Regions from separate parts of the Homo sapiens genome. Here regions 1, 3, 4 and 5 are each linked to region 2. The links come from fine-mapping of genetic effects on gene expression. A gene starts in region 2. Each other region holds a variant in brackets. All regions are shown on one strand. Distances are between the middles of the regions.

Evidence for each region.
Region 1: its variant is fine-mapped to the expression of ARL2BP in whole blood (INTERVAL, PIP above 0.99).
Region 3: its variant is fine-mapped to the expression of ARL2BP in whole blood (INTERVAL, PIP above 0.99).
Region 4: its variant is fine-mapped to the expression of ARL2BP in whole blood (TOPMed, PIP above 0.99).
Region 5: its variant is fine-mapped to the expression of ARL2BP in whole blood (TOPMed, PIP 0.95).

What each region holds. Positions count from the first base shown.
Region 1 is chr16:57,202,499-57,207,695 of GRCh38, reverse strand. It overlaps RSPRY1 (ring finger and SPRY domain containing 1), which reads right to left. Exons shown (of 15, transcript NM_133368.3): 2 at 2,688-3,192. The coding sequence starts at 3,037. Among named protein-coding and RNA genes, the nearest start is that of RSPRY1, 19 kb to the right of the region's middle. The variant A/C (reference allele first, on the strand shown) is at 2,512.
Region 2 is chr16:57,242,759-57,247,758 of GRCh38, reverse strand. It overlaps ARL2BP (ARF like GTPase 2 binding protein), which reads right to left and starts at 2,500. Exons shown (of 6, transcript NM_012106.4): 1 at 2,354-2,500; 2 at 1,618-1,679. The coding sequence starts at 2,391. LOC124903697 (a long non-coding RNA gene) reads left to right here. Exons shown (of 2, transcript XR_007065082.1): 2 at 1-1,944. RefSeq lists silencers at 2,102-2,311, 2,402-2,781.
Region 3 is chr16:57,094,959-57,100,161 of GRCh38, reverse strand. The region is part of intron 1 of CPNE2 (copine 2); the gene reads right to left. Among named protein-coding and RNA genes, the nearest start is that of CPNE2, 5.0 kb to the right of the region's middle. The variant C/T (reference allele first, on the strand shown) is at 2,623.
Region 4 is chr16:57,264,305-57,269,304 of GRCh38, reverse strand. The region is part of intron 1 of PLLP (plasmolipin); the gene reads left to right. Among named protein-coding and RNA genes, the nearest start is that of PLLP, 18 kb to the left of the region's middle. The variant C/T (reference allele first, on the strand shown) is at 2,260.
Region 5 is chr16:57,120,066-57,125,065 of GRCh38, reverse strand. It overlaps CPNE2 (copine 2), which reads right to left. Exons shown (of 16, transcript NM_152727.6): 8 at 3,875-3,973; 9 at 3,306-3,392; 10 at 1,593-1,652. Among named protein-coding and RNA genes, the nearest start is that of CPNE2, 30 kb to the right of the region's middle. The variant G/A (reference allele first, on the strand shown) is at 2,269.

The sequences.
Region 1 (5,197 bases), 40 kb after region 2:
TCATACTTACCTCAGAGAAATGCCAGGAAGAGAGACGACAATCCCGGTTGAGGACTTATGGAAGCAAGGGCCTATATACGCATCTTCATTTTGAAGTTTTCTTCTGGAAATACCACTACATGCTTAGACTTCATAAAATGGTATTACAAGAAACAAAACCAAACTTAAGGAACTACTTAACATTCTAGACATTGCTCCAAAGTGGCATTATACACCTTAATTCAGTGGTGTGATCCCAGAAATCTTTAAAAAGTCCTTCAGGGGAACTTCAATAATGAGATGTTTTCCATTAAACAATTCTAACTGCTTAAGAACTCACCACTTATTTGTTTACATATTGTGGGTCTCTGTTTTAGTGTGGAAAAAAAAAAAGCCCCAAAAACTATCATCTTAAGTCATTTAATCCAGAGAATAACCTTGTGATATGGGAATTAGTATGGTCATTTCAGGTACTCATTAGGTGCTGCCTGTTTAAACAATATAATTGACTGATGCAAGTATTTCTGAAGAATGATCTGGCAATAATAAAATTAAGTATGCATATACCCAACAGTTGTAGATAAATTTTTACACAGGTCCAAAAATCAATGCATATTTGCGCTGTTCACTGCAGTGCTGTTTGTAAGAACAAAAATTTGGCAGTAACCTAAGTGACCATCACCAGATGAAAATGTAACAAAATATAATACTTTCAGGCATACAAGGGAATACTCTGTAATAGTCAGAAGCAGTTGTAGATTTATATACAGTAACACAGATTTCGATGTTGAGAAAAGTTAAAAACAAAGAGGTTTGTATAACTATGTCACTCTCTTTTAAAATATTGCAAGGGGCCAAGCGTGGGGGCTCACATCTGCAATCCCAGCACTTAAGGAGGCTGAAGCTCGACAATCGCTTGAGTCCAGGTATTTGAGACCAGCCTGGGCAACATGGCAAGACCTGGCTCTACAAAAACTTTTTTAAAAATTAGCCAGGTGCAGTAGCACACGCCTGTAGTCCAAGCTACTTAGGAGGCTGAGGTGGGAGGATGGTTTGAGTCCAGGAGGCTGAGGCTGCAGTGAGTCATGATCACGCCACTGTACGCCAGCCTGGGTGACAAAGTGAGACCCTGTCTCTTTAAAAACAAAACAAAACAAAAAAACTCTCTCTCTCAAAGTCTATTCTGCACCCATTTTTCCAATGAGCTTAAATTAACATTGTTTGTGGTTTACTTCCTTATTTGGGAAGGATAACTTTTATTACAATTTGGTACAAGGGATTTAAAAAATTTTTTTTGATTAATTAATTTTTGAGACAGGGTCTTGCTCTATTGCCCAGGCTGGAGTGCAGTGGTGTGATCATAGCTCACTGCAGCTGGAAACTCCTGGACTCTAGCAGTACTCCGGTCTTAGAATCCTGAGTAGCTGGGATCACAGGCAAGTGCCACTGTACCTGGATAATTTTTAAATTTTTTTTGCAGAGATGGGATCTCCCTATGTTGCCTAGGCTGGTCTTGAACTCCTGGCCTCCAGCTATCTTTCTACCTCAGCCTCTCAAAAGTGTTGGAATTACAGGTATGAGCCATTGTGTCTGGCCAAAAAATTATTCTTCTCGAAGACTAACAAATGCTCCAGTATTTTATGGAAAAGTTTAATACAGCTCTAAAAATTCGTTTGTATTCACAGGTACACTCTGTTTTATGCTTAATTTTTGAGGAACTAAACGAAACTGGGTTTCTATAAATGCGATTATCAAATGTTTATATACTTAAATTTACTAGCAGGGCCTGAAGCAAAAAGAACACATAAGTAACTTTTTAAAAAATACTACCATCTACTGAGCAACTGTTAAGTACAAAGCTCCACACTGAATGCCTTATGTACATTATCTCATGATAATCCTTGTGGGAACAATATTATCCCCCCATTTACAGATGAGGAATCTGAGGCTTCAAGAAGTAACTTACCCAATGTCATGCAGTTAGTAAGGCACTGGGCCAGAACTTGAGCTAGGCCCATCATGGTTCTAAGCTTTGTGCTCTTAACTACTGAAATATACAACCTTAAGTTAAATGTTTTTTTCTACTTGGATGCCCTTTAATTTCACTGTTATTCAATCTATGATTTTGTATTTAGAGGTAGACAAAGCAGAGGAAAAGACAAAACAGGTACAGGTGTGCCTTGCAGTATCAACTGACAAGCTTCCTAAATGGATTAAAGATAGTCAAATAAGGGATAAAGGATCAAATAAAGGATAATGAAAACTCTCCTTGACCTTAGTCCTTATGTTGCCAAGAGAAGTTGCCTGTAGCCATGTTCTTGGTAAAACAACTTACCTTGAATCTGAGGTCAGTGGAATAGACAGGCATGTACCATTAACAGTGAGCCTTCATGAAACCATTTCCTATTGTAGCTAGCAACATAAACTCACTCCATATTTACTCTATTCTCTAATAAAGATCATAGCTTTATCGTGTTTTCTGCTACAGAAACATTTAGACATTTCCAGACAAAGTAGATGACAGCAAGCAAA[A/C]ACATCAAATCTTATCATTTACTCTGCCATCAGCGGAGCATTAAAATATTCTCCTTTGCCCTGTGAGCACAAGGCTTGGCGAGTATGTCCTAAAGGAACTGAAGGAGTCCTAAAGTCATGGTTCCGGGCAGAACACTTTTCATTCCACTGGAGGTGACCGTGAGTCAGATACTTACTTATCTACAAGAGTCCGTATTACTGCCAGTGTGTCCAACACTAGCCCATCCACATTTTGTTTCTTTCTCCTTGGCTCATGAGGTCCTCGGCCCCTCCTTGGTGGCCGAACAGGGTCCCGTGGTTGGCTCCTTGTGTCAGCAGTGGGTACTGCACTGTTCTCGGCCTGTTGCTGTTGGGTGTCAACACTGTCATCTGTTCCACTGTCATCTCGGCAGATACAGGAATTACCCATGGTAGTAGCGGCACCTCCAGTCCCTAGGAAGTGGGCTATGTGCTCTTCGAGAGTCAACAACAGACCCTGGCCAAGGCTTCTGCTCGCTAAGAACACGGCCCAACCAAAGACGATCATTTAGGTAGTTTTCAGTTTTCCAAGTACTGTTTTCATAACCTGGAGTTGAGGAATTTGCATCCTATTTGTTTTTAACAACTGAATGCCAAAGAAAGTTGCAGAGCTTATTCCCAACATTATCAACTACAGGGGATTCTGGACATCCAATGGCAGTTCTAAAAGAAAATGAGAAAAAGGAAAATGAATAAAAGATTCTTGACCACTTAATTACTCAAATTTTCCTAGTCTGATTTTATAGATATTAGGATTCTAATGAAGAATTATCTTTGGTTATTTTTATAGGTTTCCAATACAAAGAGATAGCTTTGGATAACAGAATTCGCAATCAATCAATAATTTCTTTTTATCATTCTGTTACAAAGTTGATTGCCAAACCATATTCTTATAGACCAGAGGAGTTATCATTGATTTTTTTAAAACCACATGTATAGTTTTTCCTGTCTATATAGAAATACATTAGAAGGATGTGTGCATTTTTTTTCAAGGGCTCCTTTTATCATAAAAAAAGAGTTGTCTTTCTGTGTAAGAGGTAGGTGTTAAAAAGAGAAAAATCTTTAAAAAAATGAATTAACTCCTTTCTTTAAACCCATAGGATAATTTAACAAGTTTTAAATAAAATAATTACAGACGTTTGTTGTTAAAAAAAAGTTATGATACAAATATGATAGCACCATTTGATATCAAGGAGAATAAAAGGATAGAGTTTCCCATTGGAAGCTCACTCAAGAACTGACAGAATTCATACAAGTTGTTGCAAAGTGTTTCTGTTATGTAAGCAAGGCTTTGTTTTGGGAAAGGAAAACTGATATCACAAAAGTTGTATTTTCACAATGATCAGTTTGTTGCACATGTCTATTACAAAGTTCAGAATAAGATGCACCAATTTATCTTTGCCTGAAAATACTGACTAAGGACCTTGTGCCAGGTACCACGCTGGACTAGGAGAATAAAGATGAGTAAGGAATAGTTCCTGCCCTCCAGGAATTCATGGATGGCCATTCTCATCCCACAAAGTATGTTTATCATTAAAAACCTAATGAAAGAACCAGCTCTTCAAGAAGCTGGTAAAATCTGGTTAGATTCTGGAAGGAAGTAAAGATTTAGAAATAGGAGACTTACATGGGCTGGTAGCAAAAAGTAAAAAAACAAACAAACAAACAAAACAGGCTGACAGCTGGAGAACAGGCCACATAAGGAATAGACTATGCTAGTGTGTAGTCTCTACACAACATCTGGCTAGTTACAATTAATTCCTCATACCTTGAGCACTGACCAGGAATAATATAAACAAAATTTATAATTCAGTGGAATTAGAAGAGAAATATTACTCCCATTATTTTATTTGTTTATTTATTTACTTATTTTTGAGGAGTCTCGCTCTATCACCCAGGCTGGAGTGCAGTGGTATGATCTTAGCTCACTGCAACCTCCACCTCCTGGGTTCAAGCAATTCTCCTACCTCAGCCTCTCGAGTAACTGGGACTACAGGTGCTGCCACCACACCCAGCCAGTTTTTATATTTTTAGTAGAGACGGGGTTTCACCATGTTGGCCACAAACTCCTGACCTCAGGCTATCTGCCCACCTCGGCCTCCCAAAGTGCTGGGATTACAGGTGTGAGCCACTGTGCCCAGCCTATTTCCATTATTTTAGACAGATTCATGGCAAAATTCTTTTTATTTTCCCAGTTTGATTACTGCTACAGGGAAAACATAGAAGAAAAAGAGAAAAATGGAGACAGAAAGTCTTCAGATATATATATATATATATATATATATATAATCATATGTAATAAAATATATATAAAGAGGGAGGAGGCAAAGGGAAGGGAGAGAAAAGAATGGAATGGGATGGAACAAGACAGGAGAAAGAAAAGGATAAAGGAAATGAGAGGCAACAGACGTTTTCACTATTAAGACAGCAATGGCTGGGCCAAGTGATACCACAGATGTTCTTGGTTCCCCCAAACCACTCGGGCTGTCTTCAAAATTTGGAGGTTGTACTGAAAAGGATGTGACTGAAGTATATAGGTAGGAGTATGATGCAAGGACCAGCTGGAAATAGCTTTTTAAAAGAACACATTCTAAACCAGCAGAGTCGAAGTAACAACATTGCCATTACTGTGGGGATCAGAGTATGATTCGCTTTAGAGGGTAGATAA
Region 2 (5,000 bases):
AGGCTAGCCCGTCTGGGTTCGAATCGCATCTCAGCTACTTACTAATTGTGTGACCTTGGGTAAGTTACTTAATTTCTCTAACCCCCATATAAACACATTTATCTGGAAAATAAGAATGGTTTATGGTAGTTATCATATAGGATTGGAAGTGGAATTTAGATGAGAATTCATGTAAATAGATTAGTTCATAGTGAACACTTAATAAATGATAGGGAATAGGGAATTTTTTTTTTTTAATTGAGACAGGGTTCTCCCTATGGTGCCTAGGCTGGTCTCGAACTCCTAGACTCAAGCAATCCACCTGCGCTGGCCTCCCAAAGTGTTGGGGTTATAGGTGTGAGCCACCGTACCCATCCCGGAATAAGGAATTTTAACAACTGAATAGATTATTTCTAAAAATAAAAGGAAAGTTTCAGAAAGGACCCAGACTTTGGGATAAATACCGTAGGCTCACAGAAGGCTCATTTTCCCATAGCATATAGGGTATAATAGGCAAGAGAACTGAATGGATTCTTCAGTATTCCCCAGAAATCCCCAAGTCCACATGGGAAACGAGCTTAATGATGAAACATCTATATTCAGGAGTTAAGGGCATGAACCTTTATACCTGAAGGTATAAAAACTTGGTCAGTAATTTTCATTCTAAATGGATTAAGCCATACAGCCAATAACACCAAATAACAGTGTTCTTTTCTCAATTCTCATAAAACTTAAAGTCAACAGAATTTTCTCAAATGTAAGTTTTCCCCTCCTACATACTTGTCTTAAACCTCTGGGGACTGTTACTGCTTCTCTGTTACTTAGCAGGTTTCATGGATGCCCAAATACATCCACAAGTAGGAACTCAAAACCTAGGAAAATACAGAACCAGCTGAAGCTTAATACCTTGTTTTCTTTATGGCCATGTGTGCTTATGGTTATGGTTTTATGTGTTTATTTTCATTTTTATTTTTTCCAGACGGAGTCTCGCTCTGTCGCCCAGGCTGGAGTGAAGTGGCACGATCTCGGATCACTGCAAGCTCCACCTCCCAGGTTCACGCCATTTTCCTGCCTCAGCCTCCTGAGTAGCTGGGACTACAGGCGCCCGCTACCACGCCCGGCTAATTTTTTTTGTATTTTTAGTAGAGACAGGGTTTCACCGTGTTAGCCAGGATGGTCTTGATCTCCTGACCTCGTGATCCGCCCACCTCGGCCTCCCAAAGTGCTGGGATTACAGGCGTTAGCCACCGCACCTGGCCTGGTTTTATGTGTTTTATGGCATGAAAATGTTAAAACTCAAAACTATCTAAAATTGAAATTGCTCTTACCCTACATAAGAAATAGAGTAGATCATTATTTCCTATAGTTTTGCGAAGAACGCCACACTGCTGGTGCCCTATTAGCCTGAGTCAGTCCCTTCCAGCCTCTGAATCTATGCTTATTAGATGTTTTCAGGAGTACTGGGCTGTTTGTTTCTAAGACAAACTGCAGTAAGCCTTTACTTAAGTATTACATTGTGCTACATTAAAAATTGCAGGCAGCTTGATGTTTTCTCTTTTTAAAATTAACTCTCCAAATTGATTTCAATGTCCTTAAAGAAACAAGCAAGTCCTTAAAAACAGTATCTTAAAAGCTTACCCATGATAATGTCCTCTAAATATCCAACCACAGCATCAAATTCTGCATCAGAGGCGGAGGAGCTGAAAAACATGCCTGGATTAGGTGCTATTTCAAATAATGCATTAAAAAAATGTTTTTAGTATGGACGTTTTCAAACATGCACAAGAGAAAAAAGAGTAGCAAAACGAACTTCCCATCACCCATCTTCAACGATTAAGAATGACTGACTGATCTAGTAAGTCCAAACAGAAGAAAACACACTCGGCACGTTTGTGACATGAACGTTCAATGTCATGACTCCACTTTAATAAAAACTTGTTCTCCAGGCTCTTAGCTATCACCCCATACCTGTCTGCTTGTGAGCATGAACCCGGCACGGGCGAAACACCTGCCGGGGGGGGTCATTTGGTCAGGAGTCCGGGAGGCGGGGGCCAGGGAGGGGTGGAGGGGCCTCGGGCGCTCAACCCCTCCAGGCTTTGCTGACAGCTGAGGGTTGGCGGCTGGGGATTGTGATGGAGGCGCTGATCAACGGTGACACCCGCCTCGCACTCCTGTCCTGCGGGGCCTGAAACCTGCAGCCTTAGTACTCTACAAAAGGAAGGCCTGGAGCTGGGACGGCGCCTTGGCGGCCCCCACCCTGCCCGGCCCGGCCCGGCCCGGCCCCTAAGGACACCTGTTTTATAGGGTCAGGCCCCGGGGCGAACGCCCGCTGCCTCCGGCCCCAAGTCGCCTGCGCCCTGGAGGAGCTACTCACAAAGACAGCGCAAAGCTCTCTCCTTCTAAGGCGTCCATCGCAGTCGCCCCGAGTAGGCTCCAACCCCGCCCGCGGCCCAACTCGCATGCAGGGCGCGGCCGCCCGGCGGGGTTAAGGCCTCTCAGCCAAGGCCGCGGCCAGCTCACTGCCAGGTCGGGTCAGCGCCTGCGCGCCAGGTCCGGCCTTGGATACCCTCTGCCGCCACGCGTCGGTCCGGCCTCTACGCCCGCCTGGCCCTCTGCGCGCGCCGCCGACGCCGCAGGTCCGGGCCTCGGTGACTGCCGGAGGGGCGCGGCGCCCCGCCTCCTGTCACCATGGCCACCGCAACCCCTTCCACCGCCTCACGGCCGGCCGGCATCCAATCACAGGCGAGCGTTACCGATGCCGGGGCGGGGCAAGACAGGGAGAGGAAGTCCCGGAAGGGAGTGCGGAGGGATGCGGCGCTTCGGCGAGCACCCGTTGTGTGGGAACTCCGTCTCAAGTCGCCCCCATTGTACGGATGAAGGAATCGAAGCCACGAGCCAGAATTTCCTCACTCGCAACTCGAGAATAAATTGCGCCTCCCTGAGTGTGGAGGATTAAATAAGTAGTTTAAGGCGTGTTTAAAGAGCGCTTGTAAGTTGCCAAGTCGCTGGAGAGCCAGTCCCTTATCCCTTGAACCAGGTGATGCTGACGTCTGATTTCAAGACAGTTCCTACCCCTCGTGGAAGGAAAGCCCCATCGCAAGAAGTCGATGTCCTGTAATTTACGTTATAATCTTCGCATCATAAAGATTACTCGGCAGTAATTGGTTTCTTGACTAATTATACAAGATGAGAATTGAAGAACTATTTTGAGCCACGCAATCAGGAATCAGATACCTTTCAGGAAAAGGCCTCTTCAAAACTGCCAAACTTTGAAAAAGGATTCGTTTGAGCTGATTTCTCTTGATTGGACAACTAAGCATTGTGTCTCTTTAGTTGCATGATACCTTATGGCCAAAGTGTGGTATATGACTAGAGGAACTAGAGGGGTTTAAGGTATGAACTGAGGGTCAGGTGGCCAGTCAGAATGGGTTAGCAGACATTTTTTATTTTTTTGAGACGGAGTCTTGCTCTGTCGCCCAGGCTGGAGGGCAGTGGCACGATCTCGGCTGGCTACAACTTCCGCCTCCCAGGTTCAAGCGATTCTCGTGCCTCAGCCTCCCGAGTAGCTAGGATTACAAGTACGTGCCACTATGCCCGGCTATTTTTGAATTTTTAGTAGAGACAGGGTTTCACCATGTTGGCCAGGCTGGTCTCGAACTCCTGACCTCAGATGATCCACCTACCTTGGCCTCCAAAAGGGCTAGGATTACAGGTGTGAGCCACCACAACCGGCCTAGCAGACATCTTTGAATGGACTTAAAATAGATATCCGTGGGATCTGAAACAAAGATGGTTACAAAGACACAGTCGGGTGTGACAGCTGTGACCAAGGTGACATAAATTATTACTAATTTATTTATTTATTGAGATGGAGTTTCGCTCTTACTGCCCGGGCTAGAGTGCAATGGTGCAATCTCGGCTCAACACAACCTCCGCCTACCGGTTTCAAGCGATTCTCCTGCCTCAGCCTCCCGCGTAGCTAGGATTACAGTCATGCGCCACCATGCCTAATTTTTTTGTGTTTTTAGTAGAGATGGGGTTTCTCTATGTTGGTCAGGCTGGTCTTGAACTCCCGACCTCAGGTGATCCGCCCGCCTTGGCCTCCCAAAGTGCTGGGATTACAGGCGTGAGCCACTGCGCTCGGCCTATTTATTTTTTGAGAGGGAGTCTTGCTCTGTTGCCCAGGCTGGAGTGCAGTGGCGCAATCTCGGCTCACTGCAATCTCTGCCTCCCGGGTTTAAGGGATTCTCCTGCCTCAGCCTCCTAAGTAGCTGGGATTACAGGCGCGTGCCACCACACCCGGCTAATTTTTGTATTTTTAGTAGAGACAGGGCTTCACCATGTTGGCCAGCGTGGTCTCGAACTCCTGACCTCTGGTGGTCTGCCCGCCTCGGCCTCCCAAAGTGTTGGGATTACAGGCGTGAGCCACCGCACCCGGTCAGGTGACATCAATTATGAGTTACTCTGTTTAGCACCAAGTGGAAGATAGGCATTTAAAAAGATTTGCTGAATTACTGGACTGAGTTGTTTAGTCAAGCCCTGGTCACACAGCTTACAGCAAACTCAGAGAGTTTCTTCATGACCTACTTTCTCTATATACCACACATTTCTGGACAAAATGAATTTGCCTACCCTTCCTAAGTCATTGATGGAGTGGAGGAGGAACACACCTTGATTTAATCTGTTCTGGTTATCTATTGCTGTTACAAACCACCTGAAAATTTAGTGGCTTAAAACCACCATTTTGCTCACTAATCTGTAATTTGGGCAGGGCCAGCTAGTCTCTATTCCAGTTGGTGTCGGCTGGGGGCAGCTGGAATGGACTAGAGGAGCTTCCTCCAAGGAGTTTACTCACATGGCTGGCAAATTAGTGTTGGCTCTTGGCTCTCAGTTGTGGACATTGGCCAGAGAACTGGGGCCGGGGTTTGGGGGGTTTCAGTTCCTCTCCATCTATAGGATTCAGGGGATTCTTGGGTTTTCTCACACCATGGTGCTGGGTCCAAGAGCAAGTGTTTCAAGAC
Region 3 (5,203 bases), 150 kb after region 2:
AGGCTGAGGTGGGCGGATCACTTGAGGTCAGGAGTTCGAGACCCAGCCAACATTGTGAAACCCCATCCCCACTAAAAACACAAAAACTAGGCAGGGCATGGTGGCTCACACCTGCAATCCCAGCACTTTGAGAGGCCGAGGCAGGTGGATCACAAGGTCAAGAGATCAAGACCATCCCGGCTAGCATGGTGAAACCCCATCTCTACTAAAAATACAAAAATTAGCTGGGCGTGGTGCACGCGCCTGTAGTCCCAGCTATTCGGGAGGCTGAGGCAGGAGAATCGCTTGAATCCAGGAGGCAGAGGTTGCAGTGAGCCGAGATCGCACCACTGCACTCCAGCCTGGCAACAGCAAAACTCCGTCTCAAAAAAAAAAAAAAAAAAAAATCAAAAATTAGCCGGACATGGTGGCGGATGCCTGTAATCCCAGCTACTCAGCAGGCTAAGGCAGGAGAATCACTTGAATGGGGGTGGGGTGTGGAAGTTGCAGCAAGCTGAGATCGCGCCACTGCACTCCAGCCAGGGCAACAGAATGAAACTGTCTTAAAAAAAAAAGCACTATGCACCCACCCCCACCCCCAGGACGGCCAAAATTTTAAAAAGCTGACCATACCATGTGTTGGCAATAATGCAGAGCAACTGGAACACACACAGGTTGCCAGAGGGAGTGGAAATTGGTGCAACCACTTAGGAGAAACATTAGTGCCCAACGAAAACACTCACGTATGTTCACCCAAAGATACACACAGGAATGTTCATGGCAGTGCTAATCCAAATAATCCCAACTGGAACTCCCCACCCAAACCCCCATGATTGGAAGAAGGGAGACATAACTGGTGAATGAACACACAGCAGACCACATACAGCCAACTTGAAGGAAGAACACAGGTAGCAATAACACGGATGGGTCTCACACGTGCTGTGTGAAGGGGGCCAGAGAGAAAGGAGTATGTCATCCTATATGATTTCACTTAGGTGCCCTTAAACATGGACAAAACAAATCTATGCTGCTGGAAGTCAGGATAGCAGTAGGACACGTGGACGGGTGTTACTGACAAGAAGGGGACACCGGGGGCTTTGGTGCTGGTCGTGTCTGTTTCTGATCTGGGTTCTGGTGACCCAGATATGTTGGTTTGTGAACAGTCATTGACTGGTCCATGTAGAATGTCTGCTCTATTTCATGTTACACTTCAATGTGGTAAAACAAAAAACAAAAAACACCAAAACCAATAATCCAGGGACTCCTCTACAAAGCCCTTCCTATTTCCCTGGTCCTTGAGAGGGAATCACTTACAATATCAGCATACTGTAACCATTGGCTTAGAAGCGTCGCCCTCACTGGAGCTTAAAGATGGAACCAAACCCTGTTTCCATTTCGTTGCTCCCAACACCCAGAGGCACAGAATGGAAGCTCGACACAAGTTTGTTGAAAATGAGGAAGAGTGAAAAGGTGAGAGGAAGAGGAACCATAACATCTTGGAATTGTAGAGGCCCGGGACTAGAGGTTCACAGAATTCCAGAATTTGGGAATTCTGGGATTTCAGAGTCATGAGTTCTTTGAGTCTCAGAGCTAAAAGACTTTAGAGTTTATCTGGCCCCACTTTCCAGCCACACAGGAACCCTGGCCACAGCCTGGCTGCCCCAACATCCTGCATCCTGGTTCTGGTGGGCAGGGTCCAGCCACAAGCCTTATTCTCTGGGGCCCTTGCCGCATGCCCATTGCTGCACCAGCTCCTGCCAGGCGACAGGCAGCCCCCGGGGAGCAGGCTGGCACTCCTGACCAGGTGGGGGCGGCACCTTGACACAAATCATTTCTGCACCGAGGCTACGGCACCGGCTGCTGTGCTCCAAAGACACCACACTCCAACAGGCAGCCAGGCCATTACGGGGATAAATACAGATGCAGACAGCATGGCGAGGAGGCTGCAGCAGGGGTTGGCCCTGAGGCCCCCCTGGGGACCCCCAGCTTCCACCAGACCACATTCAGAGGGAGGTCATTCTCTGTAGTGCCCGCTTAATCACTAAGCTCTGGCTCTTAGGGGAGGTGGCTTCCCTTGGGACACCCCCACCCCCACCCTCCCAGGCCCCAGGTTCAGCTCATCCTGCACTGGAAGGTTTGTGTCACTTATAGGGGCTGACCTAGCAGGCTGAGAGGCAGCCTCCACTGTACTTCCTGTGAGTCTAGGGACTGGGTTTTGTCCTCTCCTGCCACTCCTCCCTCCTGGGCCTCAGCTCCTTCCCCTCCGGCCTCCCAGGAAGCTCCACATGGGGATAGGCACGGAGTGCTGTGGCTCTCCGGAGACTCTGAGTACTTAGGGGACCTTGGGAGTGGATCTGGCCAGGCTCAGAGGGCAGGGGACTCCCATGGAGGAGGGAATGGGGAAAGTTGTACGTCTGAGAGAAGGTGGATTTGCCTAGGACTGAAAGACTGGGGGCTGGGGAGGTGGAGGATGTGAGGTCCCCTGGGTGGGACGTCACCTGCTGCCACTGCCTGCCCACCCAAGGGACTGAGGTGTGCTGGAGAAAGTCACCCATTCCCTATGCAACCTGGGCCATGTGTCCTAACCTCTCTAGCCTCAGTTTCTTCATACAGGAAATGGAGCTGCTGCTAACTAGAGCTGTC[C/T]CCACTACTTTCTTCATGATGTTCTTAAGGCAGCAGTGAAAAGCTGGTACACTGAAGAGGGTTGTGCACAGATGTAATCCCTCTTTCACTTGGGACTTTGGGTCTCCACCTTCCAGGAGAGCTTCCCTCACCATGCAGCCATCCATTTGGTTGTTCAACAGATGTTTCTTAAGCAGTTCCTCTGGACCAGGGACTTTGCTGTGTGCTGGAGGGGCAACCATGATCAAGACACACTCAGGCTCTGGGCATAGGAGTTCGGGATGGAGTTGGGGGAACAGAGAGGTGAGCAAATGACAAGGGCAGGAAATCTCAGAGAGTGGAAAATGTCATAAAGAGAATAAAGCAGGGTGAAGTGATTGTGATAGGGCAGTGTGGAGGAGGCCACATTTGAGCTGGGATGTTAATAGACCAGGAGCCCCAGGAGAGCAAGGCATTGGTCTCTCTCGTTCATGGCTGTATCCCAGCCATAGCTGGTGCCCAGCAGGTACTCAGTGAATATTTTTGAATGAATGAATGAATGGGCTCCTGAACCAAGCTAGGCATGTCCCCACCACAGGGCCTTTGCATGCGCTGTTTCCTCTACCTGTTCCCCAGCATGTGTAAAGGCCCTGTGGTGTGGACATGCCTAGTGTGGTTCAGAAGCCCATTCTCCCTACAACTCTACTGTATCCCTGCAGGCTTTTGTGTCTTATCAGGAGCTGAGGATATCTGGCCTGCCTGATGTGCCCTGGCTGTCCCCTCTCTAAAACACAGGAGGGAATATGCCCAACTCCCAGCAGACAACTCCTGCAATCCCTCTTTCCTTTGGTTGGACCCCAAGTCTTTTTTTTTTTTTTTTTTTGAGACATGGTCTCACTGTTTCACCGAGGTTGGAGTACAGTGGCACAATCATGGCTCACTGCAGCCTCGACCTCCTGGGCTCAAGCAATCCTCCCACCTCAGTCTCCCAAGTAGTTGGGACTACAGGCATGCACCACAACACCCAGCTAATTTTGTTTATTTTTTATTTTGGTAAAGACGGGTTTTTGCCATGTTGCCCAGGCTGGTCTTGAACTCCTGGGCTCAAGTGGTCTGACTATCTTGGCCTCCCTCAGTACTGGGATTACAGGTGTGAGCCACCACGCCCGGCTCTCCCATCAGTCTTTCAGAGACATGCCCAACCTGAGAAAAGTGTATTGTAAGAGTGCAGTGAATGCTGGGAGCTGAGCTACTGGGTTTCAAACTCTGGTTGGCCATGGGCTAGTTGAGCACCACACACTGGATGGCTTAGATTCTCTCACAGTTCTGTAGGCTACAAGTTTGAAATCCAGCTGTCAGCAAGGCCATGCTCCTTCCAGCACTCAGTATGGTAAGCCAGAGATCCCTCCAGAGACTCAAGAGGGCAAGCTCGTAATTCTCCCAGGATCCATCACTCAACATCACAGACTCATTTAACAGGAGGCTGCAAAGAGGGGCAGGTGCAGTCATTCCTCACACAAGGATTTACTGAGCACCTACAATGTGCCAGGCACTGTTCTAAGTGCTGGGACATGGCCCTAAACAAGACAGACACTGTTTGCTCTTGCCTTTTTGTGGATCTGACACCCTTTGGGGAGGGAGGCAGATAAGCTGGTGCACCAATGAGTAAAGAAGATGGTTTTAAAGAGTGGCAAATGCCCCAAGAAAAATACAACCAGGAGATGCAGCAGTGAGGAGGGATGGTGACACAATCTCACTAGTCAGTCTCATTGCAGACCTCAGAGCAAGTGTGGCCAGATAAGTAAGAAATGTTCCATGGTCGGGCACAGTGGCTCATGCCTATAATCCCAGCACTTTGGGAGACCGAGGTGGGTGGATCACCTGAGGCCAGGAGTTCAAGGCCAGCCTAACCAACATAGCAAAACCCCGTCTCTACTAGAAATACAAAAATTAGCTAGGTGTGCACCTGTGATCCCAGTTACTTGGGAGGCTAAGGCACAAGAATCGCCTGAACCTGGGAGGTGGAGGTTGCAGTGAGCTGAGATCACACCAGTGCACTCCGGCCTGTGTGACAGAGCAAGATCCTGTCTCAAAAAATAAATAAATAAAAAATAAAAAAAGGAAGAAAGAAAGAAATATTCCAGGGTATGGAACAGCAGTCTTCTTGACTCTGCCATGGGAGTGACAGCCGAGGTCCAGTGGCCCAATGAGGGCAGAAGACATTGGGATGTGAGCCAGGAGGCGCCTCTAACCTGGGCTCTGTCCTCAGGCACTGTGGGACCCCTATGTCCTCCCTTCTGGACAGGGAGGTGGGGAGATGTGTGATTGTGGACTTTTCTAGATGCTGCCTGCCAAGATCACAGGGTGACCTGGCATCCCAGCTCCCACAGAGCCCACACCACCGTGTCTGGCAGGGTTGGGGGAGATCCCACCTCCACTCCCTGAGGCCATATTCTGCAAGGGGGAAGGAGCTGGGTCCTCAAGGTGTTTTGCTCCTGATTCGGTAGCCCCAGTGCCATCTATGAATAAGGTTCAGGGGAGGGGAGAGGGACAGAGACCTCCATCAGGCTGGGGGCACCCTGACCCTGAGCTGAGGGCTTCTCAGATCGGGACCGTGCCTGGC
Region 4 (5,000 bases), 22 kb before region 2:
GGGTGAAAAGAGTTGGGGTGACCATCTTTGCATGACAGCTCAGAGTCCATAGGGTTGGTCAAACCCCTCCCTTTGGGGCCCCTGGAGGAGGCCCATGTTCAGGAGTGTTGACCTCTGCGGGAAATCTCAGAGAACAGCAAGCCAAACCTCCCTGCTTCCATTGTGCCAGGGGGTGAAGGGGTCTGCCCAAGGCCCCTCAGCCTATGAGGAGCTGAGGGAGTGCAGCTCCAAGGGAGATCTGAGGGCTGGGCTGGATTTCTGGGGCCTCCTGTGGGAGCACCACCGCCTTATCTGTCAGGTGGGTGGGGCTGGCACTGACGTGGGTCCTTATCTCTGCCTGGGCTGTGCCTGGTGCTTGAATGTGGATACTGTCATTCTCTCAGTGAGGCCTCACCCTCCTGAGGAGCCTCACACACCGTGGCGAATGCAGGAAAGTAGGCCCAGGGCCTGACTTGAAAACCCATGTTCTTAACCCCTCAGGGTGATCATGACACCTGGCCATGTTGAATATTAAGCCTATGCTGGTTGCTGGTCTAAGTTCCTTGCTCAAAACTACCCTAGGGCCCAGGCAGGAGGATCAGTTAAGCCTAGGAGTTCTAGACTAGCCTGGGCAACATGGGGAGACCCCACCTCTACAAAAATTAAAAATAGCTAGGAGTGGTGGTGCATGTCTGTAGTCCCAGCTACTTGGGAGGCTGAGGTGGGAGGATCACTTGAGCCCAGGAGTTCGAGGCTGCAGTGAGCTGCAATAGTGCCATTGCACTCCAGCCTGGGTGACAAAGTGAGACCCTGTCTCAAAAACAAAACAAAACAAAACCACCCTAGGGGGTAGATACATTTCAAAGATGAAGGAAGATGAAGACAAGGGCACAGAGAGGCTAAGCCACTTGCCTGAGGTCACACAGCTAGTTAAGTTGGCAGGGCCAGAGCGTGAATTCAAGGAGTCGATAGGCCACCCCTCCAACAGAACCAATGCCAGTGTCACTCAGGTGAACAAGGTCATGACACCCATCCACAGATTCAGAGAGCAGCTGAGAAAAACCTATTCATTTCCTGGGGCTGCCGTAACAAAGTTCCACAAACTGGGTGGCAGAAATATATTGTCTCAGTTACTGAAATCAAAGTGTTGGCAGGGTTGCTTTCTTCTGGGGCTCTGAGGGAGAGTCTGTCCCATGTCCCCCTCCTGGCTTCTGGTGGTGACCAGCAAGCCTTGGTGTGCCTTGGCTTACAAATGCATCACTCTCGTCTCTGCCTCTGTCTTCACACGATGGTCTCCCCTTGTGGTCTCTGTGTCCACATTTCTCTTGCAAGGACACCAGTCATTGGATTAGAGATGCCCCCAATCCAGTATAACCCCCCTTAACTCGAGCATGTCTGCAAACACTATTTTCTTTTCTTTTCTTTCTTTCTTTCTTTTTTTTTTTTTTTTGAGACGGAGTTTCGCTCTTGTTGCCCAGGCTGGAGTGCAGTGGTGCGATCTCGGCTCACTGCAACCTCTGTCTCCTAGGTTCAAGCGATTCTCCTGCCTCTCCCAAGTAGCTGGGATTACAGGCACATGCCACCATGCCTGGCTAATTTTTTGTATTTTTAGTAGAGGCAGGGTTTCACCACGTTGGCCAGGCTGGTCTTGAACTCCTGACCTTAGGTGATCCACCTGCCTCAGCCTCCCAAAGTGCTGGGATTACAGGTATGATCCACCATGCCAGGCCTTGTTTTGTTTTGTTTTGTTTTGTTTCTGAGACAGAGTCCCACTCTGTCCCCCAGGCTGGAGTGCAGTGGTGCAATCTCAGTTCACTGCAACCTCTGCCTCCTGAGTTCAAAGTGATTCTTCTGCCTCAGCTTCCTGAGTAGCTGGGACTACAGACACCCACCACCATGCCCGGCTAATTTTTGTATTTTTACTGGAGATGGGTTTCTCCATATTGGCCAAGCTGGTCTTAAACTCCTGTCCTTAACTGATCATGCACCTCAGGCTCCCAAAGTGCTGGGAATACAGGTATGAGCCACTGCGCCTGGCCAGAGCCTGTTTTCAAATAAGGCCACATTCCCAGGTACTAGGGGTTAGAACTTGAACATATTTTGGGGAACACATTGCAAACCACAATAAGAGATGAGGAAAAACTTCCCTCAGAGTCAGTGAAGGGCATGCACCCTGCAGGAACCTGGCCTGTCTGGCTGTCAGTGTTGGCAGCTTCTGGGGAAACTGTAATAACAGGGTTTCACTGCAGCAAGGAGTGCCTCTTGGTTGGGCATTTGTGA[C/T]GAATCTTCTCTCTGATGCCACAGGTGGTTTTAACAAAAACATCTCTTCGTTACCCAATTGTTTGGAAATTCTTTGAAGATGCAAAGGTCGTTTTTGACACTGTAGTCTTCATATGTAAAAAAAAGTTCCTAATCCAAATTATTCAGGTTTTCAGAAAAGCAAAAAAAAAAAAAAAAAAAAAGGCCCTGTGCCCTTGAGATTTCCAGACAGTTCCCTTTGTTTATCTGCAGGACCTGTCTGGGGAGGCATGGCAGGGACCTCAGAGAGCTGGGAAGGAGGGGAGGATGTGGTTTGCCTGTGTGTGTAGGAGAGAGACAGTTAGATATTCATGTAGACACCTCCAGAGAAACACGGGGACAGACGAACATGTAAGCAAGAGAGACCTGCAGGGCCCAGGGGTGAAGGCATAGAGTTCTGTTCTCAGATACCCACGTGGCACCCTCCCTGCCCCTCCCTCACCTCCCTGGGTCTTTGCTTATCATCACCTTGCCAGTGAGATCTTTCTTGGCCCCTTCTCCATAGACATTTGTTAAATATATTAACCCAGAGAGATGCCCACAGCGAGGCCTGTGTTGGGTGCCCTGTTCCGAGCAGGGTCTCTCTTGGGGGACTGGGCTGGGGGCTCAGGAACCAGGAGAAACCAGTCTGTCTGGTTCAAATGCAGGAACGAACCTTCCTTGTTCTAGGGCAGAAACCGAGGCAGCTCCGCAGGCACAGAGCCAGGCAGCACAGCCAGAAAGAACGCCAGAAATTCCCAGTCCTTATCCACCGGCTTCATCTGGACGCTGTGTTCGCTGATCTGGAAACCAGGGGTGGGGCTGGAGCACAGCACAGGGCGGGGCAGGGATGGCGGCGGGCAGTGGGGGGAGCCTGGGTGCCCAGCCCAGACTGGCTCCTAGAGCCAGCTGAAGTGTCCTCATTTTTTACACTTCACTAAATAACTCATAGTAGCGCAGGTTCCAAGGAAGCACGGATCTGGGTTCCTGTCCTTCCCTATCCTTTTAAAATTTTTATTTATTTTTTGAGACAGGGTCTCTGTCACCTAGGCTGGAGTGCAGTGGCGCCATCATGACTCACTGCAGCCTTGACTTCCCAGGCTCCATTGATCCTCCACCTCAGCTTCCCAAGTATCTGCGACCACAGGCACATGCTACTATGCCCAGCTAAATGTTATATTTTTGGTAGAGATGGGGTTTTCCATATTGTCCAGGCTGGTTTCGAACTCCTGAGCTCAAGTGATCCACCTGCCTCAGCCTCCCAAAGTGCTGGGATTACAGGTGTGAGCCACTGCACCCGGCCTCCTGCCCTGTCCTTTACCCACAGTGACCTCAGGCACATTGCCTCCTGAGATTCCCTTTGGAAGATGGGAATAACAGATAGAACATTTGAGGAGGGTCTGGTGATGGAGGAATCAATGAGATGTGTCTGGCACAGAGCGAGAAGGCATTGAGTGGTTATTGTGACCTAGGCTGTGAGTCATGGGACAGGTGATTGATAGGCATATGATAGTGGAAACCTGAATTGGTCTTTTCTTGATTTTTGGTTCATTGCATTTTCTGACTTTCCTTTAGTTAGTTGGAAGCTGGCAACACAGTGGCAGCGGAGGCCCATGAGGAATTGGCTTTAAATGAAAAAATAATTGTTTATCTTGGACGCACCCAGTTCTCACCTGGAGAAGGGACGGAGGCGTGCTGCCCGAAGTGTTTGTTCTCCTTCAGAACACTGGCCTCCCCCCAGCTCTGGGGGTTCGTGGCCTCTCCAGGTGTGTCTGTTTCTGGCAGGGTGTTGTTCTGAGACATCCTGCCCTGGGTCCACACTCGTAAGGGCTCTGCCCCCAGCTTGGTGTGTGACAGCGGGCAAGGCCCTGTGGCTCCGCCCTGGCTTCCTCACCTGCCTACCCTCACCTGGCCTGCTTGCGGCGGTGAGAGTGCTGACGGGCAGCAGAGGCTGGCAGGGTGCTGTGTGTTGGGGGGTGGATCCCTGGAGCTTCACCCCAGTGTGGGGAGGAGCAGGTGCTGAGCCCTGGAGAGCGGGACACCTTCCCTGGGCCTCCCACTTTGGGCTGAGCCCCTTACTTGGGTTGGGGGGAGGCAAGGCCAGGGGCAGTTCACAGATGGACACCTGCTTCTTATTAATTTATTTTGTTAATTTAATTTTAACTTTACTTAATTTTAATTTTATTTATTTTCGTTTATTTTGAGACAGGGTCTTGCTGTTGCTCAGGCTGGAGTACAGTGGCACAGTCATGGCTCACTGTAGCCTCAACCTCCCAGGTTCAAGCGATCCTCCCCACTCAGCCTCCCAAGTAGCTGGGACCACAGGTGCACCATCACCACACTCGGCTAATTTTTAAAGTATTTGGCAGAGATGGGCTCCCTGTATATTGCCCAGGATGGGGTCTTGAACGCCTGGGCTCAGGCAATCCTCCCACCTTGGCCTCCCCAAATGCTAGGATTACAGGCATAAGCCACCACGCCCAGCCCCACTGCTTCCTCTTTTAATACACGGTGCCTGTGCAGGGCAGGGTTCTGGTCTCTGTCATGGTTGAAGAAATAGGATTGTTAGTTCCTAAGCACATTGTGTATTTAGCGTATATTATGTGTCGGGCACTGTTGGGCACTGAAGATACAGCAGTGAACAAAACCCAGAATCTTCCTCGGAGAGCAGGGAAGGTACTCGGTCAGCATCACACAGCCACACAGCTTTTGACTTCCAAGCTCGAGGCCCCACCTGCCACTTC
Region 5 (5,000 bases), 120 kb after region 2:
AGTTGCTGTGGGGTAGGAGAGAAGGGGCCACCCATCCAAATCCTCACATGGCTAGAGGGTCACTCCCCCAGGTCAGGGGCAGCATGTCTTAGTCCTTGAGGGACCGCTGCAGGGACACAGCCTAGAGCCCGGCACAAAGGAGGCAGTCAGTGTGAGTTCGCTGAATGAACAAACTCGTGCAGGAGGAACAGGAGGGCCTGGCCTCTGTGCAGGGGAGGGGGCAGTGGTGGGCAGCAGGGTCAGAAGTCAGCAAGGCCAATCCTCTGACTCCATGGCATCCTGTGATGCCCTCCATTTCCCATTAGGATCTAGGGGTGGTGATGGGGAACGGTGAGACAACATGGGGAGGTGGGCAGAGCGTGGCACCCCAGCAGCTTCCTCCCTTCTGGGCCTGAGGCTCCCTTGGGGTGAGGAAGCAAAGCCAGGATGAGTGGCACAGAGTCTGTGGGGCAAAGACTCCAGGCCACAGGCAAGGTGGCAGTTCATTCTTCCAACGAGAAATGATGGAGCACCTGCTATGTGCCAGTTACTGTGTGATATGCTGGGGTTGGAGTGGAAGCAAAATAAACAAAGTGCCCACACTTAAAAGCACTCACATTCCAGTGGGTGCGACGATCAGGGAGAAGCGACAAATGCATATGAATCTCGGGGCGGCAAGTGCCCAGAAAATAGGAAAATAGTGAGGGCCAGGCCCAGTGACTCATGCCTGTAATCCTAGCACTTTGAGAGGCCAAGGTGGGCAGATCGCTTGAGCCCAGGAGTTTGAGACCAGCCTGGGCAACATAGCAAAACCCCATCTCTACAGAAAATGCAAAAATTAGCTGGGCATGATGGCATGCACCTGTAATCCCAGCTACTCAGGAAGCTGAGGTGGGAGGATCAACTGAGAGCTGAAGGTGGAGGCTGCAGTGATCTGAGATCGTGCCACTGCACTCTAGACCACGTGACAGAATGAGACGCTGTCTCAAAAAAAAAAAAGAAAAGAAAAGAAAAGAAAAGAAAGAAAATAGGAAGATATGACAGAGGAGCAGCAAGGCATTGAGGGAGGGAGGGCTCCCTGGAAGGTGACCTCCGTTACCTCCTCAGGCCTGAAAAATGGCAGGTAGGCAGCCATGCAAAGGTTCTGGGGAAGTGTTTCAGGCAGAGGGAACAACAAATGCAGAAGGAACAGCAAATGCAAAGTTCTAACATGAAGCAAAGCTTGGCATGTTGGGCAAACAGAGGAAGAGTGTGGTTAGAGCCCAGTGAGCAAGGAGGAAGGAGGCTGCAGATGAAGGAGGCAGGGATCGCTGAAGGCCTTGTGGCCAGTGAGGAGGAATTTGTTTTCCTCCACCCGCAGAAGGAGTGTAGCCACCAGACTGAAAGCTGTGCAGCTGTGCTCTGACCTGTAGTTAAGCCCCAACTCAGGCACACCCAGCAGGACCAGACAGCCCACTTATGCCCTCCTCACTAGGCCGCACACACTCTTTGCCCCAGGGAAGTCCTTCCTGAAGTCTACCCTAAGTCCCTCTGGCTGCACTAGTGGCCCAAGTCTTCAGGGAGGACCCTCACTGGGATGGGGGTGCAGAGGGAGCCAGCGGGGAGAGCCTTACGGTGAACATGAGCTGGCAGCCTCCCAGGATGTAGTCAAGGAAGGAGTAGTCTCGGTTTATCTGGAAGAAAGCGGATGAGTCAGTGGGTCCCCTTGACTTGGTCACACTCCCCATGGGGGAGTTGTTGCTCTATGTCCTGCAACCTCAGTAGGGACAAGGAGGTCAAAAAAAGCTGATGGGCCTGATCTAATTACAACAAAACCCAAATCTCTCTATAACAAAGCCTTCAGTGCAATGGTTCCTAATGGGTGGGGGACTCACAGAGACCCCCACACCCCACAGATACACAGACACATGCTGGTTCCAGGCAGGGTGCCAGGGCCCAGTGTCAGTTACCTGACACAGAGTGTCTCAATTTGTCACTGTTAGGTACTTACCTTCTCCTGGCCCTTATTAATCTACCTTTTTAACAAAGAGAAAGAGCAGGCCTCCAGCTCAAGGCCTTCCTCTAGAAGTTGTTTTGATGGTCTTTGTCTCTTTTTGGCAAAGAAGGCAGATCTTTTAATTTTGGTAGAGTTCTAATAATCTCTTTCTAAATAAATGTATTTAAGTTAAAAAAAAAAAAAAAGAGAAAAGAAACAGGCCAGGTATAGTGGCTCATTCCTGTAATCCTAGCAGTTTGGGAGGCCAAGGCAGGCAAATCACTTGAGGTCAGGAGTTCAAGACCAGCCTGGTC[G/A]ACATAATGAAACCCCATCTCTACTAAAAACACAAAAATTAGCCAGGCGTAGTGGCATGCACCTGTAATCCCAGCTATTTGGGAGGCTGAGGCAGGAGAATCCCTTGAACCTGGAAGGCGGAGGTTGCAGTGAGCTGAGATCACGCCACTGCACTCCAGCCTGGGCAACACAGTGAGACTCTGTCTCAAAAACAAAAACAAAAAACAATAATACAGGGAAGAAAGACTGATTCAAAAAAATAAGTAAGGCAGGTGCCAGAAATTGTGAAAAGTGATGTGAATGATGGAAACTTCAGAAACAAGGACCATCCATCACAAGGCTGCAACCTGACATCTTGACCTTTAACGGAGTGCTTTTTTGTCGTGACACCACTGAATGTTCGTGTAAACCCTAGCCAGACGAGGCTCCAAATAAGGTGGGAGTCTGGGATCCACCTGCTGGTGGAGAGCAGCGGCCAGACTCCTGAGCTGTCAGGCCCTGAGCCCAGGTCTCTTGCTCTCCTGCCCCAGGCTGCCTTCCTTAATGTTCTGCCAGATCCAGCAGTTATTTGCCCACCAGGTCTTCTGGCCCCCACCCACAGCCTGGCCACTGCTGACATGAACTTCATTGCCTTTCTGGGCCTCAGTGGCCCCGGCTGTACCATGGGAGTCACAGTGACGCTGATGCCAGAGAGGACAGGGTGTCCCCACCCAATGTCCTCTGCCCCTTGCATGCCCACCGTGGGCGGCAGCAACTCGCAATGACAATTCTCCCACCAGGACAGGCCCTGGAAGGTCAGCTCGTGCCTTCCCTGGCCTCCACACAGGAATGTGAGAGAAGAGTAACCCTGGACATGCTCTGCCTCGTTAATATCTCCATTCCACAGATGAGGAGACTGAGGCCTGGTGAGGTGAAGCTCAGAAGGCCATAGGGCCAGGATGTGGCAGAGCCGGGATTTGAACACAGGCCTCGCTGGCTCCAGATCCAGTGCTCTGTCTGTCCCTTCTGTGTGGCCTGAAACCTGGCCCCTGGCTCGTGCTTGCCCACGCTGGTTCACCTTGCAGGATCGCAGGATGATGATGCCCGAGTTTTTATAGTTCTTCTTCTTCCTCTGCTTCTTGGGGTTGATGCACTCGAACTCCAGCTGGGCAACGCAAAAGAAAGAGACACTCACCTCGGGGCTTCTTTGGAAACAGATCCTCCTCCTTGGCCCTAGAATCCCTTCCACAGGCTTGACAATGGGGGCAGCATGCTTCCTCCAGGGAGCCTCCCAGGATGTCCACACCCAAAAATGGTAGCAGGATCAGCATCTGCCTCCCTCCTCCCCAGATAACGCACCCCCAAACTGTCCAGCTGAGGGCCCAACATCACGGAATGACTTAAATGGATAGCTCCTGACTGCTCACTATATGCTGGGCACTTCGCCTGCATCATCTCATTCAATCCCCACCCAAATCCTCTGCCCCCATTGACAGATGGAGAAACTGAGTCTTAGATTGAATGCCTTGCTCAAGGTCATGCAGCCAGAAGGGGGATCTCAGCCCCAGGCTGCCTGACCCAAGACCCGGTGCCCCTTCCCCCAGCCCTGCTGAGGTCTTGGGGTTACAGTACACGTGCCCATCTCACCGGGACGCTGTCTCGAGCCTCACACATCTGTGACACTGAGGTCTGGAACTCGCCGATGAAGTCATGGCCCCCGTCATTGTCATAGTCGTAGCACATGACCTGGGGTGGGTTCAGCACGGTCACCCCAGAGCTGTCCCCCAAGAGGTGCTCTCCAGCCCCTCTCAACTCCCCAAGCAAACCCTCTGTCTTCTGTTTGGGTAGTGCCTCTCCTCAGCATCTGCCTAGCTGGCCTGGATAGCTCCTGAACTGCCTCCTGCAGGAAGACTTCTGTGATTGCTGGGAAAAGGAGAAAGTGTGTCTGCCCCACTGATGGAGGCTGTACCCTCTAGTGCAGGCAACTCCACTCCTTATACACCTGGCAAATGGCTCCCCCTCCACCTCGGGTTGTGACCCACCCAGCTTATGGCCTGGGGCCCTCTCTAGACATATTTTTTTCTGAGATGAGCACAGAAATCACAGCTTTATATGCTGTCTGAGCTGCTATGGCCCTCCTAGGAGGAAGGCAGGGATTATTGTTCCCATCCCACTGATGGGTAAACTGAGGCCCTGAAAGAGATGTACCTGCCCAAAGTCTCACAGCAGCAGTAGCAGACCCAGTACTAGAACCTAAGATTCCTGGTATCCTACTTGGGAATCTCTGTCCTGACCTAGCTGTCTCCCCAGTCCCATCTGCTCTCAGACCCAGCCCCTGGGGACCAAGAGCTTTTATTTTTTATTTATTTGATTTTATTTTATAATTTTTTTTTTTTTTTGAGACGGTCTCTACTAAAGACCGTGAGAGGGTGGGTGAGAGGCCTCACGTGAGAGGCCAGGGTGGTCTCAATCTCCTGACATCGTGATCCACCCACCTTGGCCTCCCAAAGTGCTGGGATTACAGGCATGAGCCACCGCGCCCGGCCTATAACTTTTTTTTTTTTTTTTGAGACAGAATCTTGCTCTGTTACCCATGCTGGAGTGCAGTGGCTCAATCTGGGCTCTGCAACCTCCGCCTCCCACATTCAAGTGATTCTCCTGCCTCAGGCTCCTGAGTAGCTGGGACTACAGGCGTGCACCGCCATGCTCGGCTAATTTTTGTATTTTTAGTAGAGATGGGGTTTTCCCATGTTGGCCAGGCTGGTCTTGAACT